4 linked regions of the Homo sapiens genome follow. The protein of the gene in region 2 interacts with the protein of the main gene of each other region in a biochemical or structural test. Each region holds a gene or a part of one and is shown on either strand. Other genes may lie near its edges. The genes, in order: SIAH1, SNCA, SIAH2 and VAMP2.

What was found.
Region 1: the proteins of SNCA (region 2) and SIAH1 form a complex in vitro, tested with the Homo sapiens proteins (3 studies listed by BioGRID, with this or other methods).
Region 3: of the proteins of SNCA (region 2) and SIAH2, one has a biochemical effect on the other in vitro, tested with the Homo sapiens proteins (4 studies listed by BioGRID).
Region 4: the proteins of SNCA (region 2) and VAMP2 form a complex in vitro, tested with the Homo sapiens proteins (3 studies listed by BioGRID and IntAct).

Annotation. Positions count from the first base shown.
Region 1 is NC_000016.10:48,361,391-48,368,413, forward strand, and holds part of SIAH1 (E3 ubiquitin-protein ligase SIAH1), read right to left. Parts: intron 4,498-7,023; exon of another isoform or gene 4,088-4,497; coding exon of another isoform or gene 3,997-4,087; intron 1,614-3,996; exon of another isoform or gene 1,041-1,613; coding exon of another isoform or gene 1,039-1,040; coding exon 190-1,038; coding exon of another isoform or gene 87-189; 3' UTR 1-86. Other genes in the region: LONP2 (lon protease homolog 2, peroxisomal), read left to right, coding at 87-206. UniProt on the Homo sapiens protein: E3 ubiquitin-protein ligase that mediates ubiquitination and subsequent proteasomal degradation of target proteins.
Region 2 is NC_000004.12:89,834,139-89,841,014, forward strand, and holds the start of SNCA (alpha-synuclein), read right to left. Parts: upstream 3,024-6,876; 5' UTR 2,824-3,023; exon of another isoform or gene 2,605-2,823; intron 2,597-2,604; exon of another isoform or gene 2,263-2,596; intron 2,103-2,262; exon of another isoform or gene 1,989-2,102; intron 1,555-1,988; 5' UTR 1,530-1,554; coding exon 1,409-1,529; intron 1-1,408. UniProt on the Homo sapiens protein: Neuronal protein that plays several roles in synaptic activity such as regulation of synaptic vesicle trafficking and subsequent neurotransmitter release.
Region 3 is NC_000003.12:150,760,161-150,767,738, forward strand, and holds the start of SIAH2 (E3 ubiquitin-protein ligase SIAH2), read right to left. Parts: upstream 3,010-7,578; 5' UTR 2,690-3,009; coding exon 2,273-2,689; intron 2,248-2,272; exon of another isoform or gene 2,177-2,247; intron 2,016-2,176; exon of another isoform or gene 1,777-2,015; intron 1-1,776. UniProt on the Homo sapiens protein: E3 ubiquitin-protein ligase that mediates ubiquitination and subsequent proteasomal degradation of target proteins.
Region 4 is NC_000017.11:8,159,926-8,167,118, reverse strand, and holds the start of VAMP2 (vesicle-associated membrane protein 2), read left to right. Parts: upstream 1-4,170; 5' UTR 4,171-4,239; coding exon 4,240-4,241; intron 4,242-4,242; exon of another isoform or gene 4,243-4,667; coding exon of another isoform or gene 4,668-4,675; intron 4,676-4,749; coding exon 4,750-4,870; intron 4,871-5,352; coding exon 5,353-5,511; intron 5,512-5,594; coding exon 5,595-5,646; intron 5,647-6,247; coding exon 6,248-6,264; 3' UTR 6,265-7,193. UniProt on the Homo sapiens protein: Involved in the targeting and/or fusion of transport vesicles to their target membrane. Major SNARE protein of synaptic vesicles which mediates fusion of synaptic vesicles to release neurotransmitters.

The sequences.
Region 1 (7,023 bases), on a different chromosome or scaffold from region 2:
CTTATTTTTAAATATATTAGTGTTACTACATGCAACTGTTTCCTGTATTTAACAGCCTTTCTTTTTATTTACCTTCATGTGTCTAGCTTCCACCTACCGAAAGAGTTTTAGGTTGGCAGACAGATGGGTGCCTTATTTTCTGTGAAACTGAAGTTTTAAACACTGGCCAGAAAATGTTTGATTGCCATTTCAACACATGGAAATAGTTACATTGATGCCTAAATTGCCATTTTCTGCAAAAAGCTGTGCAATGCTGGTGTCAAAGACTAGACAGTCGCTATTCATAATGGCTGTTGCAATTCCTTCATGAATAGATCGAGGAGTCGCTTCCCAAGTCAATCGTCGCCTATGACCATTTAGCTCAAGTCGGTAAGCAAAATTTTCAGCTTGCTTGCGTGTTCCTATCAGCTGTACGATTGCGAAGAACTGCTGGTGACCATCGTATTTTTCCTGTTTCTCTAAGACTAACATGAAGTGAAAGCCAAAACAGGACTGCATCATCACCCAGTCAACAGCACCAGGAAGATTAATGTCTGTAGCAAGAAAAACTATATCCTCTCCCTGTAGGGTTGTAATGGACTTATGCTGATGCATCAGATGGGGCATTACAGCATCCAGAGAGCCTTGCCATTTACAGGAAGCACCAGGGCACGGACAGGAATAAGGCCTAAACTCACAGAGCTCTTCATGGTCTGCTTTTTCTGTGTGTGGCAGAGTTATTTCACATCCAGAAGACGCATATTTACAGGGGAAAAGTACTGAATTAGCCACTTTCTCCATAGCCAAGTTGCGAATGGATCCCAAAGGGCCCCGGCAAGTTGGACAACATGTGAGCTTTGGGCGACAGTTGCTACAAACAAGATGGCCACTCTGACATTGAAGAATGGGCGGTAACACATAGTCAAAGCAGACTGGACACTCAAAAAGACTCGCCAAGTCATTGTTGGATGCAGTTGTGCCAGTCAGGGCAGGCACCCTCTGGGATGGTGGACACTTCGAGGTACCGGTAGGTAATGCTGTAGCAGTCTGACGGCTCATTTCTGAAATAAATACATAAGGAGGCAGGAGAAAAATAATTATAACCATGACTTACTTTATAAATAATGTTTACATGCCATAAGTCCTTTTAAAGTTTCATACAAAATTTACTGAGCAAAAGAGGAAGAAAAATAGGATTAAAAAAGATATTAAAAAAATAAAATTACACTGAATGTGCACTTTATTAGGATCTGTACACTGGATAAGCTCTCTTTTCAAAATGTTCCGGAAAACATGTGGAACTCCCTTAATCGTCTTTGGATAGACTACATAGAATAATAAATGCTAAAATAGAAAATGGACCATAAACAACTAAAGAAACTATACAAGGAACTGAAGTTTAATCGAATCCGTTTTGCTAGGACTCTCCCTGAGGCTCCCTTACTCTATTTCTTTCTAATTTGGAGTCAGCTGTTGATAGGTACAGGGAGTTACAGGTGAACTCCTGTATAAAATCGGCACTCTGTATCCACACGGTCTGCATCCGAGGACTTCACCAGCCATGGATTGAAAATATTCAGAAAAATTTATAAAGAATACAAAATTTTTAAAATACAGTCTATAACAACTATTTACATATTGTTTACATTGTATTAAGTAATCCAGAGATCACTTAAATTATACAAGAGAATATGCACATACAAATATGACACCATTTTCTATCAGGGACTTGAGCATCCTCAGGTTTTGGTATGGAGAAGGGGGTCCTAGAACTAATCCGAGGATACCGCGGATTGAATGTAGTTCCAATGCCAAAGAATCAGAGTATCACCTTCCATTAACTCTTCTTAATGGTAAGCAATTATCTACTCTAGAGGTGTATTTTGGAAATGAGGGGAAGGGTCACAAGGGGAAAGGTCTGCTGCCATCCCATTATCCATCTCTATCTAATTAAGTCTTCCCCCCAAATTATCACCAGCCAGGTATTAATCTTATTTCCTACTGATCAGTGCCCACCTCAAGAGTGAGGGGATGTACTCGCTAGTGAAGGTGGCGAAAATATAAAAATAAATAAAAACACAACTAAGGTGAAGTGAGGCATGGGAGAAATGGAGGGCCATCTCAAAACTTTTTAGTCTGGTAGAGAAAGTATATCTTTCTGTTCTACTTTCAATCCACAATATGTGTCAGACATAATGAACAAAGGAGGACAGTCAGGAAGAGACAATGAAAAAGGAAAGAATAAAGATGATAGCACGGCAGAGATATATGCCATACTGGGGGTGGGGGATGGAGTCAACAGGTGAAGAACCCCTTGCAGCCTAGGGTTCTCCAGCGTTGCTGAAAACATTCATCAGCAGAGTAATAAACATTATTTAACAGGTAAATATCATCTGGAAGAAATAATCGACAATGTAACTAGCCAGGCTGAGTCAAAGATAAAACAAGCAACTTTTCCCAGGAAGCTACCTGGGCTGGAAAATGGCAGGCCACTATTTGTCTTGGGGGTGAAAAAAAAGATCAGTCAATGTCCTAAGACTGCACTCCTAGTAACTCTACTAAGCCATAATCTTTTTTTTTTTTTTTTTTTTTTTTTTTTGAGATGGAGTTTTGCTCGTTGCCCAGGCTGGAGTGCAATGGCGCGATCTCGGCTCACTGCAACCTCTGCCTCCCAGGTTCAAGCAATTCTCCTGCCTCAGCCTCCCAAGTAGCTGGGATTACAGGGGCCCGCCACCATGCCCGACTAATTTTTGTATTTTTAGTAGAGACGGGGTTTCACCATGGCTGGTCTCGAACTCCTGACCTCGTGATCCACCCGCCTCGGCCTCCCAAAGTGCTGGGATTACAGGCATGAGCCACTGCGCCCGGCCACTAATCCATATTACAAAATTAAAGCCTCAAAATTAATGTTTTATCTCAATTATAGTCATTCTGTTGCAAGGAACTTTTAAGAAGCAATGTTGGTTACCAATGTGACCAAATAAATGCAACTTAGGTTTAGATTACCCAAGTGGTTACCAACTGATAGCTTAAATGAGGGCTGAGGGTGACGGAAAAAATAAAGATTAATTCCACGTCACTAAACGGGTATTTTAAAGTTCCAGAGGCAACAAAAGTGACAATTCCATCGTAATGTGTCTCATCATATGGACTCAGAACATGAATCAACTCTCAATCTGAAGCCCAGTGTGACCCAGGTATTCTGTCCCCTGACAAAGGACTATAAGGGAGCTCTCCTGTAATCCAGTTTCCCTCTCAGTAGATTCTTTGTACATATGACATCCATTTTATGTCACTTGTAAAACAGTGGGCTCAGCATTGCCAAAACACCCTGGCTGTATGCTGTATGCCTACTGCATGGTCCAGTTTACTTCAGTAAGCAGCGTAACAATTACAAAGTGGTTCCTTGGGCAAAAAACAGTCTAGTCAACCAATGCCTTTCAAATTACTAAATCAAACCAAAGAATCACATCCAAGGGCAGTAAACTCAGTTTATATTTAACACAATATAGCTACGGACCAAGCAAAACACTGTTGTTCACAATTTCTTGACCTAGCAATAGTTATACATTTATCAACAACAGTTCGGGCTCACATTACAATATATCTTTGCCATTTTCCAAACACTACAGAAAGCACATTTTAACTCCTATTCAAAGTGTGAAAAAGAAGCGAAATGTGAACGGTATTTCTTGGGAACGGAGGTATTACAGGACAGCAACTGCTAAAGCCTCTCAAAGCTCCAAGGGTGGAACCCAGCTCCATCTTGAAACAGAAAAGGAATCCCAACCACACAGGCGCCCTGCAGTAGGAACCAAGGACAGCCCTGCAGAAGTCATGACGTAACCTGAAGTTTGATTTAAACAGAAAAAAGAACAGCAGCCCAAATGAAACATGACTGAGAACCTCGGAAACGTCTCGATTCTGCTGCAGCCATTCCCTAAGCCAGGCAGGTTCCACTGACTAATAGCGTTCAAGTTTCACAGCCTCAGCAAACCATCCTCTTAATGTCAATACCTTTTCTCTTCCTTGTCCTGGCCGCTGGTAAACATGTGAACAAGACTCCCCTCCAGGAGTACAGAGAAGGTGGAGTAGCCTTTCCCGTCATGAGAAGTCAGGCCACGCATTGCGTTTCCCCCAAGAAGTAAAGGAACAGGCCCCTCCTGGGCTCTTTCTGCTCCTAAGCACAGAAGACCCAAATTCGCGTCTGAGGTCAGGATCCAAATACCATTTACTTCTCAGAAGCACCAGTTACAGAGGTGGAGAAAGGAAGCCTTTCCATCCCCAGGAGGCAACCACACCTCCCTGTGAGCTCAAATTCGACTGCATCTCCAAAAATGGGAGCCACAGCTGCGCTGTCCTCCAATGTGCCCTAAGCTTTCGTCTGTCTCCCAAGTTTGTTTTCTCCAGATTCACTGGGTAGGGTCCTGCCCAGCTCCAGTGGAGGCCACGGATGCAGGGGGCGACGCGCTGGCTGAGAAGGAAGTGCGCTCCCTGAGCCAGCTCAAGAGTTACTGCAGGAGCCTGCCTGCCGGGAGAGCCATTTGGAGCCTCGGCCGGGGCTGGGCCTGCGTTGGGAACGCCTACTCCAACCCGGGGCGCCAGGGCCAGTTCAGGGCGCGCGGCGCACAGGGCGATGCCCGTCTTGCTCGCGCAAGGGTGGGGCCGTGCCCGCAAGCCCCGCCCCCCAGCCAAAGGCCGGGGGCGTGGGGGAGCCCCCGCCACCCCGCCGTTGACCCCATCCCACCCCAGCGACATCGAACCTTCCTCAGCATTTCCACCAGTTTAAAATTAGGTGGAACCACGCTATTTTCGGTAGGTCAGAACAGTCGAATATCGGCAGTTTCTTATGGTTTCGATCTAAGAGCTACAGCGTATCTGGGAAATGCGTGGCCACACTGGCGCTACGCTCCAGGTTTATCGTGCGAACTCTAAATTTTTAGAGTGAAAACATTCTCCCTAATTCATTCAACGGCTATTTACCGGGCATCAACTACCATATTTCCTCAATTCTAGCTCACTTCATTTCTACTCCTATCAGCACTATATTTTAAACTCTCCTTACCCACTGTGAAAAGACTTTGCAGGAAAAGTAGTAAGCACACTTCTGCCACATTAAACTCCTACTTAAACCTCCTAAGAGATTATACTCTCTTCCCACTCTGGGAAAGCCATCTTAAATGGCCTCATTAAACGCAGAGTAGCTTGTTTTGTTTTTAAACAAGCACTACCCTTGCCCCAATAAAGTCCTGCGCCTCAGATTTGCATTGCATCAGCTAGTGCGTGCAGAGGTTTAACCTGTCATTACATCATGCTTAGGGCAGCCTCAAAATGCAGCAAGAGTTGGCAGTGAGGAGTGAACCCAATGCAAGGAATTGCAGATTACCCACTTTCAGCAGGAAATTTTAACTCTAACCACTTCCTCACTCTATTAAGTGTGTTCAATCACCTCAACCTCGTTTTACAATACAGGCTACACAAAACAGCATTAGGAAAAGAAATATAATTGAAAATAGACACAGTCAGCCCCACAACTACTTTTTTTCCTTTTTTTTGAGACAGGGTCTCACTCTGTTGCCCAGGTCTGAGTGCAGTGGCACAATCTCCACTCACCGCAGCCTCGGTCTTCTGGGCTCGAGCAATCCTCCCACCTCAATCTCCCCAGTAGCTAAGACCACAGGCTGGCACCACCACTCTCGTTAATTTTCTTTGTAAAGATAGGGAGTCCCCATGTTGCCCAGGCTGGTCTCGAACTCCTGGGCTAAAGCCATCAGCCTGCCTTGGCCTCCCAAAGTGCTGAGCCACTGTGCCCAGTCTATATTTTTATTTTCTAATATTTTTTCATTCGACAGGTCTTAAATTTCCCTAGAGAAGAAAATTTCATATAGAGAAACTCTTCCAAACAGAACCAAAATGTATACAACAAAAAGATGACTGATTATTTCTCAAGCAAAAGATATTTCACTGTTTACCAAACTCCAAAAGATCTGTACAGAGCCTTACAGCACACTCTGAAAACCACTGATCTATGGACAGGCCCCTCTACTTAATTAAGTCAGAAAAGTGGAAGCATTCTAGAGTCATCTACACTTGGATTCAGACCCCGGCTCCACCAGTTGTTGAGCTGTAAAACTGGACTGTTTCCAGCCTCAACTGGCTTTTGTCTAGATTGAGATGGGTAATTTATGTGTATCATGGATGGTACATATTCCAGAATATTTAAGTTTTCAGCTGAGACCTGATTTAATTGCCAAGTCATCAATTAGTCACAGACTCAGAATTTGTAGATTCCAAGAAACACACTCCAAAAGATGCCTTAACCTTGCAAAGGTGATCAAACATGTCTGCCAAGAATCAACCACCATTTAATTTTTAGCACAATAAACCTTAATTCTCAACTAGGTAGAATATTTACACTAGTTTTACAAAAAGCTGAAAAGTTCACAGAAGTACCTTAAGACAAGCCCATAGAATCCAAAACTGGCAAAAATCCAAAACTTAGCAAGAATGCACTATTACCTACACTTTCTAAAGCCTACGTCCCAAGCCCAGTTTGGTATATAGTTTAAGTAGATGTCAATCTAAACAAAAACATTTTAGAATCAGCCTTTAATGTTGTCTTAGTAATTTCAGAGCATTCAGCCATTGCTTTACCACCTTAGCATACTTAACAGTAGAAAGATAAACTTTTATTCTCAATTCCACGTGGTAATCTTTGTTTCCTTTTATAAATTACTTATAAAAGTTTAAAATGGAGAAATGTAGTCAGATATGGAAAAAAATCATAATATATTGTAAATGAAGTTACAAATAGAACACAGACGTGAGGGACGGGGTGAGAAACCAAGAGGGCTACAACATCAGACCAATGAATCAGTTACCTATATGAGGATACTGGTGATTTTTAGCTGTATTTTCTCCAAAGGGGACAATAAACTGCTTTATAAAGATTAGTCTGATTAACAACTGTGAAAACAGTCAAAATGAGCAAAAAGTAAAACATGTTTATTCTTAATTTAGTAAAAAACAACAACAACAAAAAAC
Region 2 (6,876 bases):
CATAAAATATTTAAAATTAACTCATCAATTTTTTCCTCTTGTAACACCCTATTTCAATGACTTTCTGAAAATATGTTTTAAGGTAGAAAAAAAGTAATTTAATTGAAGATTTGTGGGAAGATTAAGTCAACATAAGAAAAGTCTAAATAATGAGGCAGTGGCACATGCCTATAATCCTGGCTACTCAGGAGGCTGAGGTGGGGGCATGACTTGAGCCCAGGAATTCAAGGATGCAGTGAGCTATGATAGCATCACTGCAGTCCAGCCTGGGCGACAGAGCAAGGCCCTGACTCTAAAAACTGAAAATAAAAAACTGAAAAAAAAATGTGTTGTGAACTTTGATGAGATGCATTCATATAAATCATCCCAAGTATAAAATTTCCCCCACTGATCTATGTTGAAGAGATAGTGTAGCTTTCTTTCACTTTGCAGACATAGACGGAGCACATGTTTCAGCTAGGCAACTCAATGTGGTCATCCTCCACCTGACTGTTCATCCTGTGACTCTTACTGCTATAGTTGCCACCAGAGAATGTGAAAAAGCTCAGAGGAGAAAGAAGAGAGGAAGAATGGGCAATGTGTCTGTGTTGAGTGTGTGTGTCTATGCCTGTGGATGAGAGTGTGTGTCTATTCTTTTCCAAGGAATTCAAAGTGGTTTGTAAAATAACACTCAATTGAATACAGTTCAAGTTACAGAAAAGAGAGTCAGAGTTTGGGTGTATACCCCAAGGTGGAACTTTAGGAACAAGTAGGTAATAAGCATCAATTTCTTTATTCTTTTAGTATGTGTGTCATTTGATGGATGAACTATACAAATGTTTCTGAGAGATTAGTAGCAGCCCTCAAGCACTTTTCTCTGTCCTCAGTGTTCACAGAGACCAAATGATCACATGAAGTAACTCTATCAAAGACTAATCTGTTCTTTCCATTTTAGGGCCACAAATAGGTCTCTTTATACACATCACAGGGGCATATCAAAGTCATATTTTAAAAATCAGAATGGATTAAAATTGACAAACATTTTTCATGATGGTAAAAGAAATCACAGATCCATCAATGATTTTGATTCTTAAGAATATTCTTGATTATTTTTTAAAAGACTATGAGTTTTTAAAACTGTTCTCTGAAATAGAATTATGTAGGTACAGAAACATTCATTTTTAAAAAGTCATAAATATTAGGGCAAAATTAAAAATCTGGAAAAGCAAACAGTCGCATTTTTTACTATTAGCTCAAATACACACGTTCACATTCACCTACCTACACATACCTCTGACTCAGTCCACCTTTTTGACAAGCAATGATGCAAAAATGAATCAAGAGAGAGAACTACCAGCATTTAGAGTATTGATTATCCTAACCCATCACTCATGAACAAGCACCAAACTGACATTTGGGGTTTACCTACCTACATAGAGAACACCCTCTTTTGTCTTTCCTGCTGCTTCTGCCACACCCTGTTTGGTTTTCTCAGCAGCAGCCACAACTCCCTCCTTGGCCTTTGAAAGTCCTTTCATGAATACATCCATGGCTAATGAATTCCTTTACACCACACTGGAAAACATAAAATACACTTTGAATGAGAACTTTCGGGGAAAAATAAACAAAAAACACTGAAAAATCATGAGAAACCCTCCAAAGTGTGAGACTCTTTTAAGTGTACACTCATTTAACCATTGGACAAAGCAGACATTTTTAGCTCTGGCATTAAAAATTTAGCATCTCCCATCCATCTTGGCTAGTAAAAGTCTAGCCACCTAACCACGGATTAGGATGAATCCTCTGAGTTGTTATTACTGCATTTCAGAAGTGGAGTTGCATGAAAAGATTAACCCCTTTTTTAAATTCCCGGGGTCTAAAGGGTAACAGTATGAGTTAGAAGCATGGAAGCTGGAGGCTTAGGGTCAGGGGTATCCTTAACATGAATCCCAGAAGAAGGCTAACAGGTTGATGGTGGAAAGGCGTAGGCAACAGAACTAACTGCTCACTCGGGGTGTGGTTCAAACTCAGGCAAACAGCAGGCCCAAGTGTGATGGTTCTAATCCATCCAACATCCACCCCCGCCCTCAGCTATCTACCCTGAGCAGGCGCCGCTCACACTCGCGGGCCGTCTCCAACCCCGCGCCAGCCACCCGAGGGGGCGTTCTCAGCCTCCACCCTAGCGGACCCCGCGCCAGCACTTGTTAACCCGTTACCACCTGTTGACTTGGCCTCCTTGCACTTCCATTTCATTATTTGCCAAACGCAGCTTGCTTACTTTACAGAGAAAAACCAAGAGAGCGGGCAGACAGATTTTATGTGAGAGAAAAGTTGGATGCTCACGCTCCATGGAGCATCCTCGCGTTTCCCGGGGAAAAGCGGATCCCGGAGAAGCAGCCTAATCTCTCAGCCCTTGTGGAGAAGGGAATATCAGAAGCAGGACGAAAGCCAGGTCAAGTCTCTTTCCTTAGGCTCCCCAAAGGGACAAGTACTCACCTCCCAGAGACCTGGCCCAGCGGGTCCTCATGGCAGCACCACCCCCTCCCGGTGCCCACGACCATTCGTCTCCCATCCGGCGTTCTCCAGGATTTCCAAAGACGCCCGTTTAGATCCACAGGTACTTACCTGAGTCCCTCTGCTTCTCCACAACTCCGACTCCTCCCCGCCTCTCTCTTTTTTTAAAAAAAAAATTTAAACAATTCCCAAATAATATTTAATAGGAAAGAAGAAGGAAAAGGAGCGCACAGGAAGGGCGGAGGCGGCACCCGGGGGGGACTGTCCCCAGAGGAGGCCGCTGTGAGCCGGCGACGCGAGGCTGGGGGAGTGGGAGGCAAACCCGCTAACCTGTCGTCGAATGGCCACTCCCAGTTCTCCGCTCACGAGGGTGGAAAGGCAGAAGGCTTGAAGGCAAGGCGTGAGGGAGCGCCCAGGACGCTCTCGGAGGGGCCGGGCCGGGGTCTGCGCTGCAGCCCGCACGCACCTCACTTCCGCGTCGCGGCGCTCGGTCGCTCGCCCCCTCTCTTGGGCCCCTTCTGGTCGTCGCCGTCCTCCTCCTCCTAGTCCTCCTCCTTCTCCTTCTCCTCGGCTCTCCGCCCCCACCGCTGATTTGTCAGCGCTTCTGCCCGCCCCTCTCCCGGCGCTCGCTGCTTTCCCTGCAGCGTGCTCCTCGTCCCTATCTCGGATGGGGATGGGGCAGGGGGCGCGGGGTGAGCCATCAACTCCAGCCGCCTGCCTGGCCGCGCAAGGCGGGAAAGTGGGGGCGCTTTTGCGCCTCACGTTAAGTTTAGGGTCACGAGCACTCTTGTGGAGATCGGGAGCGGTTGGGCTAGGGATGATGCCTCTTCCTCTTTCCCCTTCCCCTCCCTTCTTGTCCCCGCCTTTCCTCTGGGTCCTCCCGGGGACCACCCCCTACCCCTCGTCAGAGTCGCCCTGGGAGAGCCGAGGGCCTGAGGGTCGACCACCAAGGGCAGAGCCTATCCCTTGGGGAGCTGCTGGAGGAGACAGGCAGCGCCGGGAGGTGGCTCACACCGCACCGCCGAGAGCGCTTTGCCCTCGCATCGCTGAAATTTAATCACGGTCACAGGTTACAACGTTAGGGGTCGCTTTAGTTCAAATATCTTCAAGGTTTTCGTTTGCTCTTAATCTAGGAAGAGCCGGAAAGGGTCCTGAGGGTGAAAGGGAGACTACTAAGGAAGAGTCACAGGTTGAGGAGGCAGGAGAAGGCTCAGCAAATCCTCTTTCCACGCCACTATCACCATTTTCCTTTCCACCAATCAGCGCCTGCCAGACGCTGATTTTCCCATCAGTGGAACAAGGAATAAATATTCCCCAGCCGTCTAAAACAAGCGGTCCTAAGGCTTTTCGCTCTAGAAATGGGACTTACTTTGCAGACCTCCCTTTATCTGGGAGACAAATCCAGCGTGATTTAGCCTACCGGACCATCATATCCAATTTCTTCTTCAGCCCCTTCTGAAAGGGAGATGCTACACACCACTCACCTTTCTGACTTCTGATTCTCGTTGCCCTCAGAATTGACACCCCCTTTTCTCTCCCCCCACCCACCACACGCACATGCACACAGACATACACACGCGAACTTCAAGACAATTTTTGCATCGCTTAACACATTTTCACCTCTTTCAGAGCTGGAAGACAGCTGTTCCTGGATCACACCAGAATGGAGAAGCAAGCTCCTCCCACTAGCAGAAAGCCTTTGCTTTCTGTGCCTGGATTCGGAAGATTAGTTAAGCACTGGAAGAGGAGGGGGGAAACAACAACTCGTTTTTGCTGTATGTTTTTTTTTTAATTGTTTTTATATTTATAGAAAGTTATGCTTTGTCTGATTCTTGCGCTAATTTGGGTTCTGAAATTTGAGTAAAATCAAATTTAAACATACAAAACAACTTTAAAACCACAAGGAACAGGAAGCAAATGATTATACATAAAAGACATATAGAAGATAATGCATATGTGTTCAGTGGAAAATAGAAAAGCATGAAAGTAAGATCACAAATATTTATTATTTAAACTCTTCCTTGAACTATTGGTCTGCCCTTTGGAAAAGCAGACTTTCCTTAATGCAGTAGCTCATATTAATATTTTTTGTTTGCTTAGGACCAGAGCAAGAAGGTTGGACTTGGGAGCTAGTTTGCTGTCTGGCTTTGAGACCTTGAACAAGTTTTGTTCTCCTTCTGTTTCCAGTTTTCTTTTTTGTAAATTAGGAGATTAACTCATGTGATCACTCTATTTTCAACTTTTTGTTATGGGAAATATTCAAACATATGCAAAAGTAGACAGAATAAAGGACTCTCATGTGAAGATCATCCAACTTTTACATTTTTTCAATGCATGGCTGATCATGTCTCATCCATAAGTCCACTCACTTTATCACTACCAATCCTCCCTCTTTTTTTTTTTTTTTTACCAAATTCAAGCTTTATATATATCTTTTCAGCTGTAAACATTCAGTATGCATCCACAAAATTTAAGGACTGTTTAAAAATAACCACAATATCATTAGATGATTCTTTAAAATTGCAGTGTAATTTACACCTAGGGAAATGCTCAGATGTTGTGTCCCTTTAAATCAGTTTTGAAAAAGCCATGCATTAGTGTAACCCACACTATTTTGAAGACACAGGACATTTTCATCATTCCAGACAGTTACCTTGTACCTTCATGTGCATATTCTAGAATGTCATAAAGATCTAATCACGTAGTATAAACTTTGTTTTATATTTGTCTGACTTCTTTTACTCAGTATAATATTTGTGAGGTTCGTTCATGTCGTTGCATGAATGGGTGTTTTGTTTTTTATTGCTTTTTGTTGTTTCTTTTTACTACTGTTAATAGTATAAGTTTTCCATTGTGCCTCTTTACAACTAGTATCTCAATAGAGTATTACAACAATTATTTAATATATTATTTCACATGACATATTTATAGTATAACCATGACCTCCTTGAGACCTAGTGCTTTAAGTCAAAGAGGTAAATAAAATGAGATATTTTAGGTCTCATTACAACAGACCAATGTGAGAGAATTATTTCTGGACAGTTGCACTTCTTATAAACGTTTAACATGATTCCAAACTTTTATTTGGTAATTTGTTAGTCCTTTGGCAAAGGACTAATGTACTATGTTATTTAGTCATAACAAGCAGATCAATTACATTTTATGTAACTTTTATAGACAGAGAAACTGAGCTCCAAGAGTTTTGGTGATATGCTGAGATCACCTAGCTATTTTAAGTGGCAGAGCTGAGACAATTTAGCAGAAACTGTTACAGAAGGCACAATTGTCTCCTGAATTAGCAGTTTGTGTCTGAAGCCTCACAGATTGGGTGTGGTAAAGAGTGAGAAGGAAAAAGGTAGAACCCAGCTGTGTTAGAAATAGCCTTCAAATTTGGATGTGACAATGGAAATCAAGAAGAACTTATGTTATTATGAAACAGTTCATTCATATTTAAAGTTTTGCCTTTTCTATATTGGTATTCCTCAATAGGGGGAGATGATTTCTTACTACCTACAAAAAAAGAAAACTGTAAACTAATTTCGTTGTCATTTTGAATTACAACTATATGTTTAACTCTTGTCACTCCTTAAAATGCCTTGAACACAGTAAACATCCAATGAACTTTTAATTACACATAATATTGATAGTGATATTGCATATGTTCTAGGTCTGTATTCTTAAGGAGGGAAAGCTGCTCAAGTACAAAGAAGGGAACTAGAAGTTAAAATAAAGTTTTTTTAATTTTTCTTTTCATTATTGATGGACAGCATGGTCTTCAGTAAATCTTTAGCCTCTCTGAATATAACGTTAAACTAATTGAATGGCTTGTACCTCATAAGAAATATGAAGTTATGAAGTAATAACATATTTGGAAGCATTACTAACATGCATATTCTGTTCATAACTACAATATTCATGTTTTGTTTTCTCTTTGCTAAGTGAAATATAAATATTTTACCAGACCATAATAGGATTCTTTTATCTGGATTTAATTCATTAATTTTGCTATAGATTAACATTCTATGAAATATATGCTTAACCTAGACTTTGTTTACCCCCATAGAACAACTGAATTTTTAGGTATGGTATGTGGTAAACTTGTGCTATAGCAAAGACAGCAGAGTAGAATGGCATGAAAATAAAGATGCTGCCCATTAACAATTGATTAAAGAGAGGACTGATTTAATGTGTTTAAGTTAAGAAAATACAACGTTTATTATCTTTGGATAATATTCCGTATTTGTTGTGAACACAAGGGGTGATGTAATGTTGATGCTGGAGCCACCTGCTTCTTATTCTCTATCTGCACCTTCCTCTCACCTTCTGTAAACCTGTGAGAGAGACGAGGTAGTGAGATTGCGATAGGCTTCTTGTGTAATTTCA
Region 3 (7,578 bases), on a different chromosome or scaffold from region 2:
AGTTTGGTTTATCCAGACTAACTGGCTGAGCTGCCCTGCCAATAGTTTGGATTATTGATCAACCAAAGGTGAGGGACACACACCCCAGCTTTATACAACTCACACACATGCACACACAAAAGCATCCCCAAGATCACATCCTAAGCTTGGTTCTTGGTCTGCAGGGGAATAATTGGCCCTTTTAAATTTCAGCTTGCAAAGTAATAGCTTTACCCCACTGCATTCTTATAGAATAGAGACTCAGAAAACCACTGACATGTACAGAAAGGCTGAGAACCCCTGATTCCCAGAACTACTCTTCAAGGTTGATTTCAGTAGCCTGTTTCACGTTAGGAAAGAACGTATGCTTTCATAGGAACCAGAGTTCTAGATCCTGAAAGTGAAACTTCATGCTCCATATAGCATAACTGTTTCCTTCCCTTTCTCTTGGGAACAACACAATTCTATTATGGTTACATTTTAAAAACAAATTATGGATTACTGACTAATATCAAATGCTCATTTGTGAACTAAAACTCACCTAAAAGCCATTTCTTTTGTTAGCCGCTGCGCGTTTAAGGGAAAGTAAAGGGGTGAGAAAATGGCTCCCCAGAAATCCTATGGGGCATCCCCCACCCCTGCAATATATCTCAAGCATCAAATAGCCACTCTATGTTAACTACCACCAAACCTTTTCCAACCACTAGGTTGTCACCTTTTTCACAACCCTAAGACAACTATGCAAATACTTTATCTAAATTTTGAGAAACTGGGCTGAGTGAATTAGTAAGCACTATATGAGGAGGGGTTAACAGCAATTTATTAAGGTTGCCTGAAACACCCTAGTCCAAACACCGATTCAAACTCTTATTTAAATATGCTATTTTAAACCTGATTTGCAGCAGGGCAGCAGACCAAATTAAAGCACTCATTTTACTGACCTGAGTCCCAAGCCTGAATTCTCTGGTGGATTATTTTTAATTTAAAAATGAGCTCTTGTCCTATAAAATAAGCAGCACCAAGGAGAAATGCAAGACAGCTTAAATGGCCCAAGAGGCAGCGCAAGTTACTTTTACAAAAAAACTGGAAAGTATTAGTGACATTATCTCCACTTCTAATTTCAGAAAATGACTTTACAGTATACTTCTAGGTTATAACGTAGACAAGTATGTCTGTGAAACTGCTCCTGAAGGTTTCCACGTAATAGCTGCAGGTAAACAAATGTTATAATATGACCACACAATGCAATACTATGCAGCCATTTAAAATACAATGAAGTCGACTAGGTTTCAGGCATAGAGAAATATGTGTGATAATATGAATTTAAGAACAGCAAGTTGCAGATGCCATTTTTGGAGAAAAACTTACATCTATGTGTGGGTATTAAAAAACCTCCCTGACATACACTGACATCTATGATTCTATATTTAGCTGCGAGGGTGTATGTATATATAGTTTAAAAAGATACACACTAAACCTAACAATGGTGGGAAAGGAGGGGAGAGATCTTGGTCTTTCATTTTACTTCTTGTCTTGGTGGCTTGCATTTTTCGCAAGGGCATTGAAAACTTTTTACATTAAATAAAAAATGAAGTGATGAGCTTTAAACAACTGTAACAACAGCTCTTGAGTGCCCTTGTTAATTTCTTGATTGACTGTTTTCACCCCACTTAGTACAACAACGCAGCCACAACTCCTCAGTCCTTCCCAGTCTTTGGAAGGCTAGGAGAGAAAAAGGCGTGGCTTGCAGGGTTTTCTTCTAGCTAGAGGAAAACAGGCTGTAGGCGCCCTTTTTTTAGCTACAATCCCGAGAGCTCCCACGTGTCAGGGGTGCGCAGACGGTAGGCGCGGGGTGCAGGACTCCAATTATCAATTCAGCCGAGCCCAGCGCTGGTAAAGGGGGCGTTTAGCTCGCCCGTTTCCTCCCTCCTCAATCCCCACACAGTCAGTTTCTCGGTCCAAGTTTTACTGGTGCGGCCCAGCCCTACCGAGAGTACCCGAATACACGTCTGCAGAGGACGCGGGCATTGGGCCGGGTGAGCTACGATGTTCTAACGATCAGCAAATGCCAATTAATCTGTTAATTGTCTATTAACAATTATTACTCGGTAAATGTCAACCCAGACCTACACCCAAAGTGGGCTTGAGGGAGGGTGGACGAAGTGTAAACATTTTTTCTTTTTTTTTTTTAAATGAGAGATGCCGCCCGCCTCTCCGGGCCTGCGAGTGGGCTGGCGGATACCGGAGTCCCTGAGGTCACCGGCGGAGGTACGTGGGCTGTCCCTGGGCTTACCTTACAGGGAAACAGGACTGCCGAGGCCACCTTCTCCATAGCCAGGTTCCTGATGCTGGGCGTCAGGGCGCCCCTGCACGTCGGGCAGCAGCTCAACTTCTGGCGGCATTGGTTACACACCAGGTGCCCGGCCTGGCACTGCAGAATAGGAGGCAGGACATAGTCAAAGCAGACCGGACACTCGAAGAGCGAGGTCAGCTCGTGGTGCTGCGGGGACACCGGGCCGGCCCCGCCGCCGCCGCCGGGGCCCGAGATCACCGCCGCCGCGGCGGGCACCGCGGACGAGCCGGGGCCCGCAGCCGAGATGGTGGCGGCGGCCGGGGGCGCAGCCGGGGACGGAGTGTGCTGGGGCTGCGGCGGCGGCTGCTTGCTGCAGGGTTTATTAGCGCTGGGGCCGGTGGAGGACGGGCGGCTCATCGCGCTCCGAACCAACCATGGAACTGCGGGCGCCTGCCTGCCGCGGGGCCGCCCGGGTCAAGGCGGTGCGCGCCCCGCGGGCAGCGAGCTCCGAGGCAACGCCACGGCGCCCAGCCCAGGTCCGGGCGGCGGAGACGCTCGGCGCCCGGCAGGCGGAGGGCTGGACCGCGCTGATGCACTCCGCAGCCCCCGGCGTTCCGAGCACGCCTCCGCGTCGGACCCCGCGCGGTGCCCTCCTCCCGGCGGCGTCCCGGGCCCCGAACCCCAGCGGTGCGCAGAGCCCTGGCCCACCCGCTTCTGGAACAGCCGCTGACGCAAGCCCCGGGGGCGCGCGCGGACGTGACGCCTGGACACGTGTGCGGCCGCCCAGGCGCGCGGGGACTGGCAGAGCCACCCTGCGCCGGGGCGCTGGCTCCGCCCGGCTCCAGCTGGCAGCGCAGGGGGCCGCCTAGCGCCGGCGCTTCCTGCTCGGGCTGCGGGCCGGGCCTGCGCCAGTGAGCATGCCTGGCTCGCTGCAGCCCCGCGGGGTTGTCTTTTCTGGGTTGAGGAGGGGGGCTACTCTCGGGGAAGCGTCGCCGAAGTCCTCTGGCCACACCCCGGGGTGCCTGGCTGACGCGTCCCTCAGCTCAAACGAGAAAGGCAACTTCAGGCGGGGCGGGAGCGTGGACGGTGGGTGGGACCGGACGCGGGCGGGCAGGGGCGGGGCGCGGGCGCCCCTGCACTAGTCGGAAAAAACCGAGAGGTTTCTCTTCTCAGGGCTGAGTCACCAGCACGCAGGAGAAGAGGGCGAAGCGGCCACCCGCGTTCTGTGTTCGGAGTCAGGACGAGAAGCATTGGGTGGGAGCAGGGCGAGGGGCTCGAGTTGGGTCTGCAGCGGGCACAGGACCTAGTTTTGTACAGTTAACGGTGGGGTTGAGTAAAGAGGGGGGCGGTGGGGAGGATGTAAGCTCCCTTTATTCCTTTCCCAGCGGACCAGGAGGAAGCTTCGTTGAATTGAGCGCCCCTGGCTCGTATAGCAGGCCGAGGAGGGAGCTCATGGGCAGCGTTGGCTAAGAGTTCGAGATCATCTAGAAATGTCAGAAACGTAGGTTGGGTCGTGAGGTCTCTGAAGACAGTGGGTGAAACTCCAGTGTAAGGCGCTGCGTCCGCTTGGTAGAGAGCCGGCCGAAGTCCGAGTCTTTGTTGCGAGGCGTAGGGCCACCCTGCGCGCCCAGCAGAAGCGCTAGAGGGCACGGTTGCCCGGGGTGAACCGCATGTCCAAATGTAACTGTGTGCTCCGAGTTAAAATTGTTTTTCTGCAGACTTTGCTTGAGCCAACGATTCCGGAATTGGGGAAAGGGTTACCTTAGGTAGAAATCGGAAATTTATAGGAGACACAGAGGTAAGGACCAACTGTTAGGACTGAGTGAAAAATGGTTCCCTCCAACTGTAAAAGTGGAAAAAAAAATACCTATCTTATAGGTGGGGCAGTGAGGAGTAAATGAGTTTAATATATTTCAAGCTTTTAAAACAACCTCGCCCATCATAAGCACTGTTTAAACATTAGCTCTTATCTTTTAAAAATATTAGTGGATGTTTAAAATGAATGAATACAATTTGTCCAAGAAATATGGCGTAAGAGCCCAGAAGAAATAAAGTTTAATCTTACAAAGGGCTTCTGTAGAAAGAATACATGCATGGAATTGATGGAATTTGGTATAAATCTTGAAAAAACTTAATAGGTGTATTCAATCGTTCAGTAAATGTTTCCTGAGCATTTATCATGTGTCAGCTACTGTTGGAGCTCTGAGAATGGTTCTCATGCAGTTTACATTCTAGTAAGAGAGCAAGGCCCAATAACCAAGCACTCGTGGGAGAAGAAGGATTTCAGATACCACGGGGTGGGCAGGCATTATAGCAGGAGCTAAAAAGCACAGAGTGAAAGCATGTATTCTGGGATTGCATTGGGACTTGGAGGGGATATAACGGGAGTGTAGGGGTGTGGCGTTAGCACAAGGGGAGCCTCAACTGGCTTAATAAGACATTTACCTCAATGATAGGGGTAAACCACTGTAGGGTTTTGTTTGTTTTTTTAAGAACACACAACAACACTAGGTTTTGTAGGTTTTTGGAAGCTCTTTAGTAACATGGCTGAACCTGAGTTTTTGGATAGGTAGGGAGCATAAAATAATAACTAATGTTAATTGAGTGCCCACTGTATGTTGGGCATGGATAGTTTTAAGTATTTATCATAACTCTCTGTGATGAATACTACTGTTATCTCCATTTTACAGTTGAGGAAACCGAGACATAGGTTACTTTGCTCAAGATCACACAGCTGAGAATGTGGGAACACGCTAGGAGCCCTTCTTAACTACTAGTCTGTATGCCTCTAAATTATGCCTGATTCCTACTTACAGTCTTGTTAAACAGTTAAGATTAGCACACTCAACAGAGTCAGAAAACAGTTGTTCAGCCTATAATAAAGCACTAAATTTTGTGGGCAAACTTTACATAAACTCTTTCCTTAGCTGGTCTAGAGAGAAAAATTAAATCATGTTCTATTTATTTCATTTTCACCTTTTTATGACACAAAATATAAGTGATAACACAAAAATCACCTACTGTTTTACTGTTATTGGAGGAAATGTAATATTTTTCATTCTTAATTTAAAATCAAAGCATTTGGAATTTATTAATGGAACACATTTTCTTTCCTTCCACTTCTAGCCTCTCTGTGTGATGACCTCCATCCCCACGGCTTCTTACTAGCTCTCATTAGGAGACTGGAGTCCTCACCCTTGCCCCATTGACACGAGCTTTAAGTGTTCCAGCTAGATAGGCCCTGGTCATTCAGAAAACAATTTGGTTTGGGAGGTGTTGAAAGAAATAACAGGAAAAGCAATTCTCTGCAGAGAGAATTTGGTTTATTTTTCTAAAAATACAGCGAACCCATCCACTCTTACCCTGGCAGATGCCTCCCCTGGTATAGAGAAATTTCTTCTTTCTTCCTCCTTCACATCATTGCACACCTGATTAAGTCAACCAGGGTAATTAAAATACAAAAGCAAAACAAAAAAACTCTGGGCAGTTGCTGAAGGTAGGCAGGGGGAGAGTGGATAGGTCTGCTATGTGAGCCACATCAATGACCAGGCTGGTCTTCCCAGTCGCCTTTCTTCTTCCTCCTTCCTTGGTGACTTTTGAAACAAAGAAAGGTGACCTTTGCATACCGGGCACTATGAGCTAGAGCCTCCTCTTCCAGCGGGCAGTCCGCTCAGAGGTCGAATTTAGCGTGTACTCAAAATGTGTGCTGAGTTGAGTTGTTGGGAGGTTTATTTACCCTTTGGAGTGTCGCTGCTGCTTCTTGGCCTGTTTAGTGAGTGACTTTGTGGTCTGGGGGAGCAGGGTCCAGCCTTTTGTTATCTCCTGATTCATGACTCATTTACCACATCTACTGTATGAGAGGTTGGTCTCATTCGCCCACCTACTGAGTCCCAGATTGCATATGTCAAGCAGGACACCTCTCCTTAACCCATCTGCTCTATGCTAAGCTTGAAAGACTAGGGGTGTACTGAGTAGCCTTTTCTTTCCTTAAAATAGCAGGGTGAGTCTTAAAAAAAACACCTCACAGGTGAGTTCCTAATTTCACTAAACTGCTGAGCACAGTGAGAAATGCTCCAGCTAGGCAGACAAGCTCTTGCCCTTTTTTCTGTAACTTACAAATTGTGTGGTTTTGCAAATCAGGCAACTTCTGCCATCAGGCAAATGTGCATTTGCAGAGCAAATTGTGGTTGGCTTTTTAGAGATGACTCAGGTATGCATTGGAGCTTGCTGCATGGAAATTCCTCATCAGGGGAAGCTTGTGGGAAATCTGGAGGTGATGTAAGGCCCCCTGGTAATTATAGTAGGAACTTTTAACTTCATCTGTTTCTGGGGTAATTTCCAAATGCTCAAACTTCTTTTGAATAATTGTAGGTCTCTTAATTCAAATCTTTTTTTTTTTTTTTGAGACAGGGTCTCACTCTGTCACCTAGGCTTAATGCAGTGGCTGGATCATGGCTGACTGCAGCCTCAACCTCCCAGGCTCAAAGGATCCTCCTGAGTAGCTGGGACTACAGGCACGTGCCATCACGCCCTGCTAGTTTTTTAGTTTTTGTAGAGAAGAGGTCTCACTGTGTTGCCGAGGCTGGCCTCAAACTCCTATACTCAAGTACTCCTAATTCAAGCATTTTTTTGAACAACCATCATGGACTTAGCACTGTGTACTAAGAGCAGTTCTATGTATTTGCATTATTTTTGTATCCACACTTAGCTAATTAGTGCTCACCCTGTACCAGGGAGTGTTCCAAGTACTTTACATATTTTAATTCTCTTAATTCTCACAATGTCTTTTATAGGGTAGATCTTTATAGATGACAAAACAGGTACAGAGAGGCCAAGAGAGTTGTAGGAAGTCATCATTAAGAAGGCTCCCAGGGATCCCTCCTCCTGGTGTCGCCCAATATGTAACACCTTTCCTGTGAATGAGGGCTGATCCTGCTTTAAGTGAACAGAATATGGTCAAAGTGATAGAATGTCACTTCTGAGATTAGGTTAAAAAAGACTATGAATTCTGTCTTACTGTCCCTCCGTTCCTCTCGCTTGCTGTCTTAGCTCGAGCTGCTATAATAAAATATCATAAACTGGGTGGTTTAAATAACAAACATTTATTTCTCACAGTTGTGGAGGACGGGGAGACCAAGGTCAAGGTGCCACAGGTGTCTAGCGATGGCTTGCTTCCTGGTTTGTAGATGGCAGCCTTCTCACTGTGTCCTTACGTAGCAGAGATAGGAAGGAAGCTCCCTCAGGACTCTTCTAAGGATACCAACCCTCTCCATGAGGGCTACACCCTTAGCACCTCCTGTAATCCT
Region 4 (7,193 bases), on a different chromosome or scaffold from region 2:
CAACAGGAGCTTGTTAAACCCAGTGAATCTCTAATGAATGGAGGGTTGGAGAGTGAGGGACCGGAACCAGGAGTCCTTTCACGCACCCAATCCCAGGAGATTCTGATCTGCCTATGTCTTCTCCCACCCATACAGGGCTCTGGCATGTGGCACCCCCACCACCCACACTGCCCTGCTTCCCAGTGGCCAGGGGCCTGGGCCTGCTCTGCTGGCTGGTTCCCTGGTCGAACCAGTAAAAAGTGATCAGTGCTTCGCCAGCCCAACTAGGACTGTCCTTACAGAATACTGGGCACAAAGGTCCTGCCCAAACACATCCTTCCCGTTAGCAGTCTGTCTGCCTGCTATGCACTCACCATAGTTTATTATTCATTTGCCTGCCTCGTTCCTGGCACTGTGCTTGGTACTTGTTCAGAGAGAACTTCACATATTAAAAAGATACCACTTTATGTGTTTACATTATGCTTTAATACAAAAAGAGACACCTTCTTGACCGGGTGCATTGGCTCACGCCTGTAATCCCAACACTTCAGGAGGCCAAGGTCGGCAGATCACCTGAAGTCAGGAGTTTGAGACCAGCCTGGCCAACATGGCGTAACCCTGTCTCTACTAAAAACAGAAAAATTAGCAGAGGTTGTAGTGAGCCAAGCTTGTGCCACTGCACTCCAGCTTGGGTGACAGAGGGAGACTGCCTCAAAAAAAATAATTAAAAAGGCCGGGCACAGTGGCTCACACCTGTAATCCCAGAACTTCGGGAGGCCAAAGTGGGCAGATCACCTGAAGTCAGGAGTTTGAGACCAGCCTGGCCAACATGGCGCAACCCTGTCTTTACTAAAAATAGAAAAATTAGCCAGGCATGGTGGCGGACGCCTGTAATCCCAGGGACTCGGGAGCCTGAGGCAGGAGAATCTCTTGAACCCAGGAGGCAGAGGTTGCAGTGAGCCGAGATCACGCCACTGCACTGCAGCCCCGGCCGACTTCTAAACCAGTAATTGTCTGAAGAGAAAAAAAAATTACGAAATAAGGCCGGGCATGGTGGCTCACGCCTGTAATCCCAGCACTTTGGGAGGCCACGGTGGGTGGGTCACCTGAGGTCAGGAGTTCGAGACCAGCCTGGCCAACATGGTGAAATCCCGTCTCTACTAAAAGTACAAAACGATTAGCCGGGCGTGGTGGTGCACTCCTGTAATCCCAGCCACTTGGGAGTCTGAGGCAGGAGAATCACTTGAACCCGGGAGGTGGAGGTTGCAGTGAGCCGAGATCGCACCATTGCACTCCAGCCTGGGCAAGAAGAGCGAAACTCCATCTTAAATATAAATAAATAAATAATAATAAAAATAAAAAATAAAAGAAAGCGTTTATGAAAGTGTGGTCTCGGCCAGGCGCGGTGGCTCAAGCCTGTAATCTCAGCACTTCGGAAGGCCAAGGCGGGCGGATCACGGGGTCAGGAGATCAAGACCACCCTGGCTAACACGGTGAAACCCTGTCTCTACTAAAAATACAAAAAATTAGCCGGGCCGGGTGGTGGGCGCCTGTAGTCCCAGCTACTCGGGAGGCTGAGGGAGGAGAATGGCGTGAACCTGGGAGGCGGAGTTTGCAGTGAGCAGAGATCGCGCCATTGCACTCCAGCCTGGGTGACAGACAGAGACTCTGTCTCAAAAAAGAAAAAAAAAGAAAAAAAAAAGAAAAAGAAAGTGTGGTCTCTGTTGCCTACATCACCATCACCTTGAGTCCTACATCCTTTGAATGAGTCTTGGGGGTGTGCCCTAGAAAATCATTGGCCAATTCCCGAAGCCAGTACATGTAGAAGCCAAATCTGAGTTATGCAAATACATTATTTTTCTATTGTTCAACTTACCTCTATTTGGGTCTCCATTCTACCTGCCTGCAGAAAACATTCTCTCAGTCACTTCCAGGTGAACTCCGTCATCCCACTCCTTCTCCCACCTCCACCATTGATCTAAATTTGGGGAGTTCCTCTGAGCCACAGCCTAGGTGGGGTGGGGTGGGAAGGGGCTGCTGGATGAGAGTCCTCTTTCTGAGATGAATCCTCCTGGGCCCTTCATCTCCGTGGGTCACACATGCCCTCATTTCTACTCTGCTGCTGCCGTCCCCACGATCCAATAGCAATAGCACGACCCCTGGCCTTGACCGTGTATCTGGGGCTCTGTCCCTTCCACATCACCCCCAAACCAGCATCAAATGTCTTGTCTGGCTCTGCACTAGGCTCCCCTCAGTTAGTGCAGGGTGTCCAACTGGGGGCGGAAGGGCTTCCTGTGCCTGCCTCTTCCAATCCTCCATGTCTTATTTATACCCTGACAGACACTGAGGGTTTTGAACTTAAAAGGCTGGAATTTGGCATCTTTGTTCTCTGACTAGAAAGAGGAATCATTTGAAGACCAAAAAGCAGGAGCCAGCATCTCACAGCATGATCTGAGACCCCCGTGGAAGCTGCTCTTTTCTTTCTCATCACATAGGCTGAGCCACCCGGGACTGTCAGTGCACAAGGACCAGGGACGCGGCTGCTCCTCTGAGGGGGAGGAAGCCAAGAGTATCTTCTCTTAGATTGGGCTGAGTTCCCACACCCAGCACACACATTCCCTGCTCACTCACCTCCCACAGACAGCTGGGAAATGACACCTCTGGTGACAGAGCCACTCTCCGGGCTTCTGTGGGGAGCGGGTGGGGCACTGCAGTGGGGGAGGATCTCACACCCGGAGGCCCTGGGAAGCCAGGGTGGGGGAGGGAGGAAGCTGGTTCCTGTTTGTCTTAGAGATCAAGGCCATCAGCCTCCCTGCACCTTCCAGGGATGTAGTAAGCACCCCCACCCCAGGGCCAAAGGGCCTCGCCTAAAATGCCTCCTGCACCCTTGAGGCTTGCTTTGACCCCCTGCACTCCACCAGAGCGACAGCTCCCCTGGTCCCATCTTCTCTGACAAGCTGGGTGGGAGTGTATACAGCTGCTGGGTGTGCTTAGAGGGCCTAATGGAGACCAGCCAGGGATAATCTCCTATGTTATCCACATCAAGCCATTTAACAAATATGGATTTAGTACCTACATATGCAATGTATTTGGGGTCCAGAGAGAGGAGGGCAACGGTCCAAGGTCACACCTGCGAGGCGAATACGCATGTAAAGCAGCACCTTGTAACCTGTGCCCACTGTGCCTACTACTAAAGAAAAAAAAATGAGAGAAAAAGAAAAAAGGCTTTTTTTTTTTTTTTGGCCCAGGCCCTGTGCCTGGGACCAAAGCCTGAGCCCTTTCCTGCAGTCGGGTCGCTGACCTAAGCCTGGGGCAAAGCTAGGTCTTGGCCAGTCAGCAGCCACCACGTGAAGCAGCCCCTGCCCCCATCACCCCCGGCAGCCTTGTGCCCTCCTCCTCGGGGTCCTCAGCTCACCCCACCTCAGTCGGGCCTGCTCCAGCGGTTAAGTACCCCTAGTCTGAACCTTAATCGTGAGGCGGGGCAGCCCCCTCCCCACACCCTGTAGACACTCCCCCGTCCTCCGCCCCCTGGACTTGTTTGGGCGGGAAGAGCCTGCCTCATCTTTTCTTCCTACCCTCCTACCCAGTGGCCAGGGACCCCAGGCTTCCTCTGAGACATCCACCAGCGGTGATGGGTTGGGACCAATCTCCCCCACTCCTCTCCACCCTAGCAGTAAGGTCCCCGCTCTCGATACTGCCCCAGCACCTGCACTGGCCCTCTCTGATTTCCCAACTCCAGCCCATTCCAAGTGCTGAAGGCGGGTCGCTAGGTGCTGGGACCTGGGCGCGGGGCAAGACCTTGGGCTGTGTGGGGTGCAGGCTGGTTTACTGGGTTCACGATTGAGGGAGTGGTCTGGGGGTTAGGTGTAGGGCCAGGCTGCGTTGTGCTCTAAGGGGCAGGCGGCAGGCGGTTTGGGGGGGCTGTGGTCAGACAGGGTGGGGTGGCGGTGGGTTTGGGGAAGCCGCAGCAGCCCGCCTTGGGGTCCCGCGAGTGCCGAGGGAGCTGCCGGGGCATGGTGGCGCGGGGCCCGTGGTCCTGCCCGGCACGACCCCCGCCCCGCAGCGCCCCGCAGCGCCCCGCCCCCGCGGCCCCGCTCGCGACGCGTCTCCCGCGGCGCCCCGCCCCCGCCCGCAGTGCCCGGATGCGGGTGACGCGCGGCCGCCATCTTTCCGTCCCGGGCAGCCAGCGCCAGTCGGAGCCAGCGCGAGCCGCCGCCGCCATCACTGCCGCTGCCAAGTCCTCCACCCGCTGCCCCCGCCATGTGAGTCGGCCGCCCGCCACCCTCACCGCGCTTCCCTGCGCCGGCCGCCGCCCTTGGCAACCGGCCGTCGGGAGTGCCCGGGGTCTCTCCTGCGTTCCCCGCGCCCCGGGGCCAGGCCCAAGCCGGTGACTGCGCGCGGGCGGCCGAGGAGCCCCGCGTCCCGGGCTGGCCGGCTCGGGCGATGGCCGCGGGAAGGAGCGGACCCAGTGTCCTCCTGCCCCTCCCCGCCCCTGTCACCGCGGCCGCCTGTCTTTTCGGGTCGACCCGGATCGCATCTGTGAGGTCGCCCTCAGTTGACAGGCGGGGAAACTGAGGCCGGGGGGGCCTCGCTCAAGGTCACGCAGCTCATCGGCGGCAGGGCTGGACCGAGACCAGGGCTTACATCGGGTGGCCTTCCTCCCGAAAAGGAGGACTGGAGGGACGAGGATGGACAGGTGGATGGGCGGAGCCCTGGCTGCGGGGCCGGGAGGCTGCAGGCCCTGGGTCTTAATCCGTCCCTGCTCCTCAGGTCTGCTACCGCTGCCACGGCCCCCCCTGCTGCCCCGGCTGGGGAGGGTGGTCCCCCTGCACCCCCTCCAAACCTCACCAGTAACAGGAGACTGCAGCAGACCCAGGCCCAGGTGGATGAGGTGAGTGTGGGGGGAGTCAAAAGCAGTAGGAGGGACCCTGGGGGTTGGCGTATAGGTGTAGGGGCCCATGTTGGTTTGGGAGTGATGACAGTTCACGCCTGTGGGTTTGCGGACAAAGATACCATGCCCCATCCCTGTCTCCCTGTCAGCACGCACTTGGAAGGGCGCTGGGGGTGTTAATCAGCTTTGCTAGCCTGGGGTGTGCCAGCCTGGGCAGGTGTGCTCTGGTGATGGACAGAGCGCCTGAGGTTCCATAGAGGGAGGGTGTTGCTATGACATCTGAGATGTCACCAGCATGCCCCTGATGTGTGCTCCTTGCATGTCCCCAGGTGTGCTAGGCATGTTCTGTGTGTCCTTGGCATGTTAACCTGGCAGTATCAGGGTGCATGTTCCATGTGTGGCACGGTGGGCACATGTTTGAGGATTGCCCTCACTGAGGTGGGCCTTGGCACACCCCCCTGCCTCGTGGGCCCTTCTCCCAGGTGGTGGACATCATGAGGGTGAACGTGGACAAGGTCCTGGAGCGAGACCAGAAGCTGTCGGAGCTGGACGACCGTGCAGATGCACTCCAGGCGGGGGCCTCCCAGTTTGAAACAAGCGCAGCCAAGCTCAAGCGCAAATACTGGTGGAAAAACCTCAAGGTAAGGGTGGGGACAGGAAGGAGGACAGGTGGGTGAATGGGGTATCATAGTTTGTCTTACTGATCCTCGCCTCTCACCCCCAGATGATGATCATCTTGGGAGTGATTTGCGCCATCATCCTCATCATCATCATAGGTGAGTAGGGTGAGAATGGCCGGGGCCCTTTCCCTGGAGAGGTTTCCCCAGTGGATTCTAGGTTTTGAAGGTCATTAATCTAGTTTTTACTCTTCAGCCAAAAACACATATAGCTGCTAATGGCAATTCTGATTCATCTAGAGCCAAAAACTTTGATGTTATTTAGCCTGCATTTTGCCTAGTTCTTGGCAGTCTTGTTAACATTTGGAAATAGGAAAGCTGGTGTATCCATTGAGGACCCTTTAGGCCTAAGAGCCCAGTCTGAGAACCCTGGAATTGAGGAGTGGGAGAAAGGAAAGGACCAGGGGCTTGAGACATGACCAGGAAGCCAACCACCCCATTATTTGAGAGCTTGCGGTCTCAGAGGCTCAGAGGATTAGGGTCTGTGGCTTCAAGGCCATACCATGGAGCGGAAGGGACCTCAGAACCTACCTGTCTAGCCCCTTGCTTTGTAGATGGAAAAACTGAGTCCAAGAGAGGGTGTCAGCCAGCTGGGGAGTGGGGAGGATTGGAGCAGGGCCAGGCCTGACACACTGCTTTCTTGTTCTCTCTCTTTCTCTCCCCTCTCCCTCTTCCTCATCTTCTTCCCCTCTCTCCACAGTTTACTTCAGCACTTAAATCCCCGAGGAGTCTGCCCTGCCTAGAGAAGGGCCTCTCCCCCAACCCTCAGCCGTTCCTCCACCTCTCAGCCATATCTTTCAGCCCCCACTCCCCTGGATCCGTGTGTGTGTGTGTCCGTGTGTGTGTCCCCCTGTAAATAGCCAGCTGTTATTTATACATATATAATATTATATATATTTGGTCTGTTTGTAGTTTTATTACTAGATGATTTTTCCGGTTGTCCTTAACACCCCTTCCTGAGGTTCCCTTCACCCCTCTCTCTTGCCTTCCTTCCCTTTCCCTTTCTTCCTGACTAGCCCCAAGTCCCTTCATTTGCATCTGCTATGCAATAGTCCCTCTCCTTTCCTTCTTCTTCCCTCAGATTTAGCTGATCCTTCCTCCCACCCTGGCCTTCCTTTCCTCTTTCCTCCTCACTCTCCCCGTCATGCTCCCTCTGCCCCGCCCTCAAAAAAAAAAAAAAAAAAAAAAAAACAACAGCACCTGTCCAGGCTTCCTTAGGTACATCTTCTTTGTATCCATTGGGAGGCTCTGAGACTGGCCCCACTTGGTCCTAAGAATCCCAAGGTCTTTGGGAGCGTCCAGCATGTTAATTAGCGTATCATTACATACTGCTATCCCTTTCCATTTCTTTTTGTTCCATCACTCTTCTCTCAACCTGTGTTTCTTTTTTTACTGAGGAGTTAGTCCCCATTAGTTCTTGTATCACATTTTCATTTGCACGACATTACTCGCAGGTGGTGGGGAGCCTGGGCTTTTGGGGAACCAGGCTGCTCTGGTCCCCAGCATTGCCTCCTCCTAGCCCCTCTAGTCCAGTTTGCCTCCCTTACCCTCATTTTCCAAACCTCTTGTACCCTCCTCTCCCTCCCCCAGCTGGTATGTAAGTGTCTTGAAGTTCAGTATGTTATGATGGACCAATAATTCTGCCA